Linked DNA regions of Homo sapiens: region 2 is linked to region 1. The links come from fine-mapping of genetic effects on gene expression. A gene starts in region 1. The other region holds a variant in brackets. All regions are shown on one strand. Distances are between the middles of the regions.

Region 1 (5,374 bases):
TGAGCTAGGTGCTAAAATAGTTGCTACTGATATAACAGTAAGCCAACACAGATCCAGTCCTTTTTTTTTTCTTTTCTTTTCTTTTTTTTTTTTTTTGAGACAGGGTCTTGCTCTATTGCCCAAGCTGAAATACAGTGGCACAGTCATGGTTCACTGCAGTCTCAAATTCCTGGACTCAAGCAATCTTCCTGCCTCATCCTGCCTCAGCCTCCCCAAGTAGCTGAGACTACAGGTGTACACCACCACACCTAACTAATTGAAAACTTTTTTGTAGCGGTGAGGTCTCACTAGGTTGCTCAGCCTTGTCTTAAACTCCTGGTCTCAAGGGATCAGCCCTCCTCAGCCTCCCAAAGTGTTGGGATTACCGGTATAAGCCACTATGCATGGTTCAAAAATACTTTTATGTTCCTTTCCTTCTTCTTAATTTCTCCATGGCAAAATTCCTCATGGTCAATAAATCACTGATTGTAAACAAGCATCATGTGTGATATGCCTTTTGCAAGCGTAGCTACGAAGTCCTGTATCCCATTTCCAAAGTATAGCATCCATCATTCCCTTGGGGACAAGAGATCGTGGTGTAAAGCTGGTTGATCCTGTCAACTGATCTCACAGCAGGTAAAAAACTGATACTGCAGGTCCAGTTTCAGGAGCTGACAGGAGCGTTTAGCAACACTCCAAAGAGGAATTCTTTGCTCCATGCATCACAAGCAAGGCAATCCTTTTGATCACACTTGAATTTTTGGTTTTAAGCTTAAGTAGTCTGTTTTCTCTTATGCTATTTATAAAATGCAGGTGTCAAGGTTTGCGCTTGGATGTTTTAAAGAGGCAAAAAATCAAACATGCCTAGGTTTCAGGAACTGACCAAGTGCTGAGAGATTAATCTTTTTTTTTTTTTTTTTCTGAACCAGGGTCTTGTTTTGTGGTCCAGGCTGGAATGCAGTGGTGTGATCCTAACGCACTGCAGCCTTGACCTCCTGGGCTCAAACAATCCTCCCACCTCAGCTTCCTAAGTAGCTGGGACCACATGTGCATGCCAGCACACCCGGCTAATTTTTAAATTTTTTGTAGAGACAAGGTCTCCATATGTTGCCCAGACTGTTCCCAAACTCCTGGGCTCAAGCGATCCTCCCACCTCGGCCTCCTGAAGTGCTGGAATTATAGGTATGAGCCTTGGTTTTTCAATTCTGGGTCCATAAATTTATGAAGACCTTGGATACAATGTACACAGGAGAAGGCATCCTGTTGGTAAGGAGTTTCATAAAAAGGAAAAGAAAACGCATCAAGAAGCTGACGTAGGTAGCAAAGAGACAGGAAAAGAGAAGAGCTTTAAGGCCAGTGTTTGGAGATCAGACATTTCCCCTCAAAGGAGGACAGGCCTGGCTCAGGTCTTCAGAGGCATCAGGAATAGACCCTGGCCTCAGCTGATTCAGAGATGGTCAGAGCAAAGGACACCCCACAGGGCCTTCTCAGGGCTATGTTTGGAAGCAGCTCTTGTTACCCCAAGCCTGCCTAGCATCAAACACCCTTCCCTTTTATCCTCAACGTTTGTGGTCAAGTATTTGTCACTGCCCCGAGGATATTTAGGGCTGTACAGAGCAACATGTCCTTGTCATCAGGAGCAAGGACACACATGGAGCGGAATCTGACTGATGGGTACACATTGTGCTTTCTGCCCGCTTCTGCAACGGAAGATGCTGGAAATGTTCTGCTAGATCTCAACAGTGTGGGTGGCTGAAAGCAAACTCTGTCCACCACACAGACATAGTCTGAGAGCCCCCTAAGTGTGACTGCCCTGGGCCACCTGGATCCCCCTGCTGGGCTCTGAGCAGGGACATGACTGGTCTCTGTGCAGGCCGCAGGGCAGCTTAGTCCCTGTCACAGCCCCAGAATGATCGCCCCCACCAGGCCCAGGTCGGTCCTCCTGTAAGTCTCCTGGCAATACTGCTCTAAAATCCCACTTCCAGCCCAGTGCAGGGACTCACGCCTGTAATCTCAACACTCTGGGAGGCCGAGGTGGGAGGATCACTTGAGCCCGGGAGTTCGAGATCAGCTTGGGCAACATAGTGAGACACCCGTCTCTACAAAAAAAAAAAAAAAAAAAAAAAAATTAGGCGGGTGTGGTGGCATGCACCTGTGGTCCCAGCTACTTGGGAGGCTGAGGCAGGAGGCATTGCTTGAGCCCAGGAGTTGGAGGTTGTAGTGTGCTAGGATAGCGCCATTGCACTCCGGCTTGGGCGACAGAGCGAGGCTGTTTCTGAATGAATGAACGAATACATAAGTAAATAAGAAAATAGGTAATACATAAAATAAAATAAATAAAATAAAATAAAATAAAATAAAATAAAATAAAATAAAATAAATAAAATAAAATAAATAAAATAAAATAAATAAAATAAAATAAATAAAATAAAATAAATAAAATAAAATAAAATAAAATAAAATAAAATAAAATAAAATAAAATAAAATAAAATAAAATCGCACTTCCCAGCGGTTACACCCGGCCACGGAGGTCCCCAGGCTGGCTGCGAGGGCGCCGGGGAGGTCACTGTTACTCCAGCCCCGCAACCCGCGGCGGCCCTCGCACACTTCCGCCGGAAGTCAGCCCCTCAGGGGCGCCGTGCTGATGTCACGAGCCCGCAGGAAGTCTCGTATCGCGCCCGGGAGGCGCCGGAGCCCAGCGGCTGGCGGTAAGGCCGCCTCCGCGGGGCTGTGGGAAGCTTGGGCTGTCCCAGGACCGTCAGTCTCCTCCTCTGACCCTCCCTTTCCCCTTGTGTGTAGGGCCGCCGTCCCACCCCCACCTCGCCCGAGTCCGGGGCGGCCCCGGTGTCCCCTCCGAGCCTGCTGCACTCCACGTCCCCCTACCAGGGCTCCAGCCCCCAGGGAAATCTCCGACCAGGCCCGCCCAGGAGGTGCCTTGGATGGGGGTGGCTTCGGGAGGCCCTAATGGGGAGTGGCGGGGAGAGACCCAAGGCTACCGACTTGGCTTATTTCTTCCCAACTAGCTGTTTCTCACAAAGTCTTTATTATTATTGTATTTTGAGACGGGGTTTCGCTCTTGTTTCCCAGGCTGTAGTGCAGTGGCGCGATCTCGGCTTACTGCACCCTCCGCCTCCCGGATTCAAGCAATTCTGCCTCAGCCTCCCCAGTAGCTTGGATTACAGGCATGCGCCATCACGCCCAGCTAATTTTTTTTGTATTTAGTAGAGACGGATTTCACCATGTTGGTCAGGCTGGTCTCGAACTCCTGACCTCAGGTGTTCTACCCGCCTCGGCCTCCCAAAGTGCTGGGATTATAGGCGTGAGCCACCGCGCCCGGCCTCTTTTATTGTTTTTAGAGATGGGGTCCAGCTCTATGGCCCAGGCTGGAAGGCAGTGGCACGATCACAGCTCACTGCAGCCTCGACCTCCTGGGCTCAAGCCATCCTTCCACCTCAGCCTCCCAAGTAGCTGGGACCACAGGCGCGGGCCACCACGCCCCACTGATTTTTAAATTTTTATGTAGGGACAGTGATCTCACTGTGTTGCCCAGGCTGGTCTCGAACTCTTAACCTCAAGCTATCCTCCTGCCTGGGCCTCCCAAAGATTTGGGAGCAGGCCTAAGCAACTTAGTCTGGGCCATTTCTCCCAAAGTCTTACCCATTCATGCTGGGGGTGCTGAAAATCCCCTACTTCCAAATCCTTTTCCACAGGTATTCTGCCTTTGACTGCAACTCTTGTCGTCTTATGTGGGTGTTGAATTGATCTGTCTCTGCAGCCAGATCCAGGCTCCTGGAAGAACCATGTCCGGCAGCTACTGGTCATGCCAGGCACACACTGCTGCCCAAGAGGAGCTGCTGTTTGAATTATCTGTGAATGTTGGGAAGAGGAATGCCAGAGCTGCCGGCTGAAAATTACCCAACCAAGAGAAATGTAGGCTGGGTACCCTGAATCACCCCGTGAGAATTGCTGCTGTTTGTTTACTCTCACCTATCATGTCATGAATAGCTTCTTGTTTGGTTATCTCACTTGGCATTACAGCCCAGAATCTTATCTGCTAAGGTCAAAAGTGACCAGTTCCGGTATCTTTTTTGGTTTGTTTTTGAGACAGGGTCTCATGCTGTCGCCCAGGCTTGAACTCCTGTGCTCAAGCAATCCTCCCGCCTCAGCCTCCACAGGCATGCGCAACCACACTTGGCTAATTTTTGTATTTTTTGTAGAGATGGGGGTCTCGCTTTGTTGCCCAGGCTGGTCTTGAACTCCTGGGTTCAAGTGATCCTCCCACCTCAGCCTTCCAAAGTGCTGGGAGTACAGGCACGAGCCACTACGGCCGGCCAATTCCAGTACCTTTTTTTTCTTCTTTTTTTTTCTTAAACCGCTACACTATGGAAAAGAGTTCCAGTATCCAGTGTCTTTTCTTTTTTTTTTTTTGAAACGGAGTCTCGCTCTGTTGCCCAGGCTGGAGTGCAGTGGCGCGATCTCGGCTCACTGCAACCTCCGCTTCCTGGGTTCAAGAGATTCTCCTGCCTCCACCCCCTGAGTCGCTGGGATTACAGGCATGTGCCACCACGCCCGGTTAATTTTTGTGTTTTTAGTATAGATGGGGATTACACCATGTTGGCCAGACTGGTCTCGAACTCCTGACCTCGTGATCCGCCTGCCTCGACATGCCAAAGTGTTGGGATTACAGGCATGAGCCACCACGCTCGGCCTCAGTATCCAGTATTTTAACGCAGGCCTGTGTGTTGACTCTGGTTCCAGAGGGTAATTCCTGATGGTTGTGGCCAGTGTCCTGGAGGGATGCTTCTTAGGACAGGATGCCTGATTCTGGGTGCAGGGCTCCTGACTGCCTCTAGGAGATGCTTGTTCTCAAGGCATTGTCAGCAGATTCTTTGGGGACACATCTTGTATCTTTGTGAATATTTAAGGAAGTAAAAGAATGATTCATGCCTGGGGGCAAGGAAGGAGGATGCATGTTCTTTCTTGGTTTATTTTGGATTTGCAAGTTGGAGATGCTTCAAAGGCAGGCCACAGTCTTAGGGTGTTAGATTCAAAGTTTTTATCTTGGGCAGGTGCAGTGGCTCACGCCTGTACTCCCAGCACTTTGGGAGGCCGAGGCAGGTGGATCACCTGAGTTCAAGAGTTCGAGACCAGCCTGGCCAACATGGTGAAACCTCATCTCTACTAAAAATACAAAAATTAGCCAGGCATGGGGTGCGTGCCTATAATCCCAGCTACTCAGGAGGCTGAGGCAGGAGAATTGCTTGAACCTGGGAGGCGGAGGTTGCAGTGAGCCAAGATCACGCCACCGCACTGCAACCTGGGTAACAAGAGTGAAACTCTGTCTCAAAAAAAAAAAGTTTATCTTTCTTTTTTTATTTTTTATTTTATTAAATT
Region 2 (5,374 bases), 32 kb before region 1:
ATGGTGAAACCCCATCTCTACTACAAATACAAAAATTAGCTGAGCATCTGATGGCAAACGCCTGTAATCCCAGTTACTCGGGAGGCTGAGGCAGGAGAATTGCTTGAGCCTGGGAGGCGGAGGTTGCAGTGAGCCAAGATCGTGCCACTGCACTCCAGCCTGGTGACAGAGCGAGGCTCTGTCTCAAAAAAAAAAAAAGCCCCCTTTGTAGTCAAGGCCAAATCACCAGGCCACAGACACCTCACCATTCCCAGTCTCCACCCCTTTCTTCCTGCCACCTACTTGTCATTCAGCTTTCAGCTCAAAGATCATCTCATCAGGCAGCCTTTCCTGGCCACCCTGTCAAAGTGGGTTGCGTCACTCTCACCTCACCCTATTTATGCCTCCACTTTATTCATCATCATCTTTTTTTTTCTGGAGTCAGGGTCTTGCTCTGTTGCCCAGGCTGGAGTGCAGTGGTGCAATCATAGCTCCCTGTGGCCTTGAACTCCTGTGTTCAAGCGATCCTCCCACCTCTGCCTTCCGAGTAGCCAGGATCACAGGTGCACGCCACTGTGCTTGGCTAATTTAATTTAATTTTATTATTATTATTATTATTTGAGAGAAAGTCTCACTCTGTCGCTCACTCTGTCGCTCTGTGCAGTGGTGGGATCTTGGCTCACTGCAACCTCCACCTCCTGAGTTCAAGCAGTTCTCCTGACTCAGCCTCCCAAGTAGCTGGGATTATAGGCAAATGCCACCACGCCCGGCTCATTTTGGTAATTTTTGTAGAGATGGGGTTTCACCATGTTGGCCAGGCTGGTCTCAAACTCCTGACCTCAGGTGATCCTCCCACCTCGGCCTCCCAAAGTGTTGGAATTACACGTCTGAGCCATCGTGCCTGGCCTGTCATGATCTTTAATAGCTTGTGTATTGATTAATCCACTTGCTTACTGTCTCTTTCCCTGCAGTAATGTTAGGTGTGTGAAGTCAGGCTCCTTGCCTGTGTTGTTCATGGCTGTTTCCCCTGTCCTGCACATCATAGGCCCATGATCAATGACTGGTAAATGCATGGTTTTCTTTTTCTTTTTTCTTTCTGTTTTTTTTGAGATGGAGTGTCACTCTTATTGCCCAGGCTGGAGTGCAATGGCATGATCTCGGCTCATTGCAACCTCTGCCTCCCGGGTTCAAGCGACGCTCCTGCCTCACCCTCCTGAGTAGCTGGGATTACAGGCACCCGCCACCACAACCAGCTAATGTTTTGTGTTTTTAGTAGAGACAGGGTTTCTCCATGTTGGCCAGGCAGTCTCGAGCTCCTGACCTCAGGTGATCCACCCGCCTCAGCCTCCCAATGTGCTGGGTTTACAGGTGTGAGCCACTGTGCCCGGCCTGCATGGTTTTCAGTATATCTACTTCTCCATTCCCTGCAGCTTATATAAATGTTCAAGTCTCTCTCAGGCTATAAATAAATAAATAACAAGCTGGGCACAGCAGCTCATGCCTATAATCCCAGAGCTTTGGGAGGACAAGGCGGGAGGATCACTTGAGGCCAGGAGTTGGAGACCAGCCTGGGCAACATAACCAGACCCTGTCTCTAAAAAATGAAAGACAGCCGGGCGCGGTGGCTCATGCCTGTAATCCCAGCACTTTGGGAGGCCGAGGCAGGCGGATCACAAGGTCAGGAGATCGAGACCATCCCAACTGACACGGTGAAACCCCGTCTCTACTAAAAATAGAAAAAAAATTAGCCAGGTGGGCGTGATGGCGGGCGCCTGTAGTCCCAGCTACTCGGGAGGCTGAGGCAGGAGAATGGTGTGAACCCGGGAGGCGGAGCTTGCAGTAAGCCGAGATCGCGCCACTGCACTCCAGCCTGGGTGACAGAGACAGACTCCATCTCAAAAGAAAAAAAAGAAAGAAAAGAAAAAGTAAAAAGTTAGCCAGATATGGTGGTGCACGCTTGTATTCCCAGCTACCAGATACTTGGGAGGCCGAGGTAGGAGGATCTCTTGTGCCCGGGAAATCAAGGCTGCAGTAAGCCATGATCACACCACTGAGCTCCAGCCTGGGTGACAGATCAAGACCCTGTCTCCATAAATAAATAAATAAAAGACAATCCTCCTTTGATCCTGAAAGCTGCTCATTCTCCTCCCTTCTGTAGTCTGGAGCCGTCTACACGTGCTGTTTCTGTACCACTGCCCTTTGCCACTGCAGTTCACTATTGCACTTGAGGCTCTCCACGACCCAGCTCTGGCGAAGAACCCCAGACAGTGACTCTCAGACCTCGATCTTCAGCCGAGAGCTCGCTCTTGAACTCTGGAACTGTATATCCACCCGCTTTCTAGATGATTCCAAAAGGGGAGGAGAAGTAGCGGGAAGCTTCGAGGGTTTCCAGTCAGAGGCCACGTTCTGTACACGTCTGAATCCTAGCACAGATGCACCATGAGTCTGTGTAACCGTCTGTCTCCCCCACCCAGGTGTGATGATCCGGGGTCTCATGCTTGTCCAGCCCCAAGCACAGCGCCTGGCACATATTAGGCACTCAGAGAATGTGGATGGGACTGAATCAAAAAGCAGCCTTGCATTGCACTTCCTGCAGGCCCCAGCTCACCACTGTTTCCCTCCCTGTGAGTGGGCCAGGCTGGCAGCACCAGCCGCC[C/T]CCTCCCCACGCACGCGCCGTGCTGGGGAAGGTTGCCAGTTTGGAAATCAAAGTCAGCAGCAACCTCAATTCAAAGGAGAACATGGCTGGCTGCAGAGATGTTTTATGTAAGAAAGAGGAAAAAATAGTTCCTCCCTCCTGGGGCCCGTGCTACAGTGCGGTTTCGGTGTCAGTTATTACCCAGATGTTCTCAGCCTACATCTAAGCATGAGGTATCATCACGGGACACTAATGGATTTTCTATTAAATATCAGCCACTTCAAGGAGGAAAAACTGGGGCAGGCAGAAAGCGCAGGCGAGAACTGGAGGGCTGGTGATTGAAAACCAACCAGTCTGGCGCAGTGGCTCATGCCTGTAATCCCAGCACTTTGGAAGGCAGAGGCAGGTGGATCACCTGAGGTCAGGAGTTTGCGACTAGCTTGACCAACATGGTGAAACCCCATCTCTACTTGAACTCCTGACCTCAGGTGACCTGCCTGCCTCGGCCTCCCAAAGTGCTGGGATTACAGGTGTGAGCCACCGTGCCCAGCCAAGCCACCAAGCCTGGCCTGTCTCTACTAAAAAAAATACAAAATTAGCCGGGCGTGGTGGTACATGCCTGTAATCCCAGCTTCTTGGGAGGCTGAGGCAGGAGAATTGCTTGAACCCAGGAGGCGGAGGTTGCAGTGAGCCAAGATCACGCCATTGCACTCCAGCCTGGGCAACAAGAGCGAAACTCTGTCTCAAAAAAAAAAAAAAAAAGATAGAAAACCAACTGGGCTCCACGGAGGCCCTTCATCTTCCAGAGGAAGTCATTTTTGGAGATTCACTCTCAGCTTTTGTGGGTGCCCAGCGAGCCCTAACCAAAATCCTCCACTTCCCCGTTCCTCCTTGCCAGAAAACACACTGCAGCTGGCCTGGGCAGCCTGTCGGATTCTACCCTCAGCGGGTTGCTGCCCAGCCCTGCTCCTGGGCAGGTCTTCTCTTGCATCCTGCCCTGTTTGGAGCTCTGAACGTGCCCCCTTCCAACTCTGCAGGGATTAGATGGAGTCTGGGATAGACCTTTGGCTCCATGGCAGGTGATCTGGGATTGTAGCAGGCATTACTCGCACTCACCAATATTTCTAGGTCTTCCCTCTTTCCTGGACACACATTAGACTACATTTCCCAGCATCCTTAGGGAGGAGCAGTGTACCTAGTTCTGCCCAATGAGCATTGAGGACAGGTGCTGTTCTAAGAGGAGATGCACAATTTTCCAAGCTCTCTTCCTCTTCCATAGGGAACCCTGAAGCTTCACATAGAGATGGAGGAGTCTGAAATGCTGAGACCTCGTATGGACATCAAGCCACCCTAGAAAGTCTACTGACCCCCTAGAGGACTCTGTGGGTGAAAAGTAAACTTCTGTAGTGCAAACGCACTAAGTTGTTGATTTTGGGTCAGGCACAGTGGCTCACACCTATAATCCCAGCACTTTGGGAGGCTGAGGCAGGAGAATTGCTTGAGGCCAGGAGTTTGAGACTAGCCTGGGCAACATAGCAAGACCTCATCTCCCCAGTCTTTTTTTTTTTTCTTAATCAGCCAGGTGTGGTGGTGCACACCTGTGGTCCCAGCTACTAGAGAGGCTGAGGCAGGAGGATCACTTGAGCCCAGGAGTTGGAGGCTGTAGTGAGCTATGATTGTACCACTGCACTCCAATCTGGGCAACAGAGCTAGACCCTGTCTCAAAAACAACAACAATAAAAAATGTTGGGTTTGTTTGTTATAGCAGCAGAGCCTGTTGTGGGTACAGGAAGAAAGTCACAGCTTTGGAAGATCTGGACTTTGGTGATGTAGGGAAGCTGGAGTTGAGTCCTGTGTGTATGCGAGTGTGTGTATCTGGCCACAGAGGCTGGTCTACTCAGGGTCAGAAAAGCCCATTCAGGGGATCAGGCTAGGGTACATGATGGAGGAGACACTCCTGAGGGGGTTAATTTGGAAGGGGTTAGGACTGGACCAAGCTTGGGCACTGAAGGAGGCCAGAGTGGGTGGGGACCTGATGCCTGGGCAGTGGGCTGGGAGGCATTTCTGCAATAGTCAAACTCCGACAAAGTTTCCAGGCTCCCTGACCTCCCAAACCCCATGGCCAAGTGCTGCTGGGGCAGAACTGAGCAGATTCCCTTCCACGGAGGAAAAGTCTGTGAGCTTGATAACACAACAGGGTGACTATAGCCAATAATAACTTAATTGTCCATTTTAAAATAACTTAGGCCAGGTGCAGTAGCTCACACCTGTAATTCCAGCACTTTTGGAAGGCCGAGGTAGGCAGATCTCCTGAGGTCAGGAGTTCAAGACCAGCCTGGACAACATAGTGAAACCGTGTCTCTACTATAAATACAAAAATTAGCCAGGCATGGTGGTGGGGGCCTGTAATCCCAGCTCCTTGGGAGGCTGAGCCAGGAGAATTGCTTAAACCCGGGAGGCGGAGGTTGCAGTGAGCCGAGATCGTACCACTGTATTCCCTGGGCAACAGAGCGAGACTCTGGCTCCAAAAAAAATAAATACAAACTTAAACGGTGTAGATGGATTGTTTATAACTCAAAAGATAAATGCTTGAGGGGATGGGTACCCCATTCTCCATGACATGCTTATTTCACATTGCATGCCTGTATTAGAGTATCTCAGATACCCCATAAATATATACACGTATTAGGTACCCACAAAAATTAAAAATCAAAATAATGTAAAAAAAGTTGGCCAGATGCGGTGGCTCACGCCTGTAAT

The links. PIP is the estimated chance that this variant, and not a neighbour inherited with it, causes the effect.
Region 2: its variant is fine-mapped to the expression of ZDHHC4 in whole blood (INTERVAL, PIP above 0.99).

What each region holds. Positions count from the first base shown.
Region 1 is chr7:6,574,811-6,580,184 of GRCh38, forward strand. It overlaps ZDHHC4 (zDHHC palmitoyltransferase 4), which reads left to right and starts at 2,644. Exons shown (of 8, transcript NM_001134389.2): 1 at 2,644-2,688; 2 at 3,756-3,910. RefSeq lists a silencer at 2,664-2,993 and an enhancer at 3,272-3,887.
Region 2 is chr7:6,543,211-6,548,584 of GRCh38, forward strand. All of the region lies in intron 1 of GRID2IP (Grid2 interacting protein), which reads right to left. Among named protein-coding and RNA genes, the nearest start is that of GRID2IP, 5.6 kb to the right of the region's middle. The variant C/T (reference allele first, on the strand shown) is at 2,636.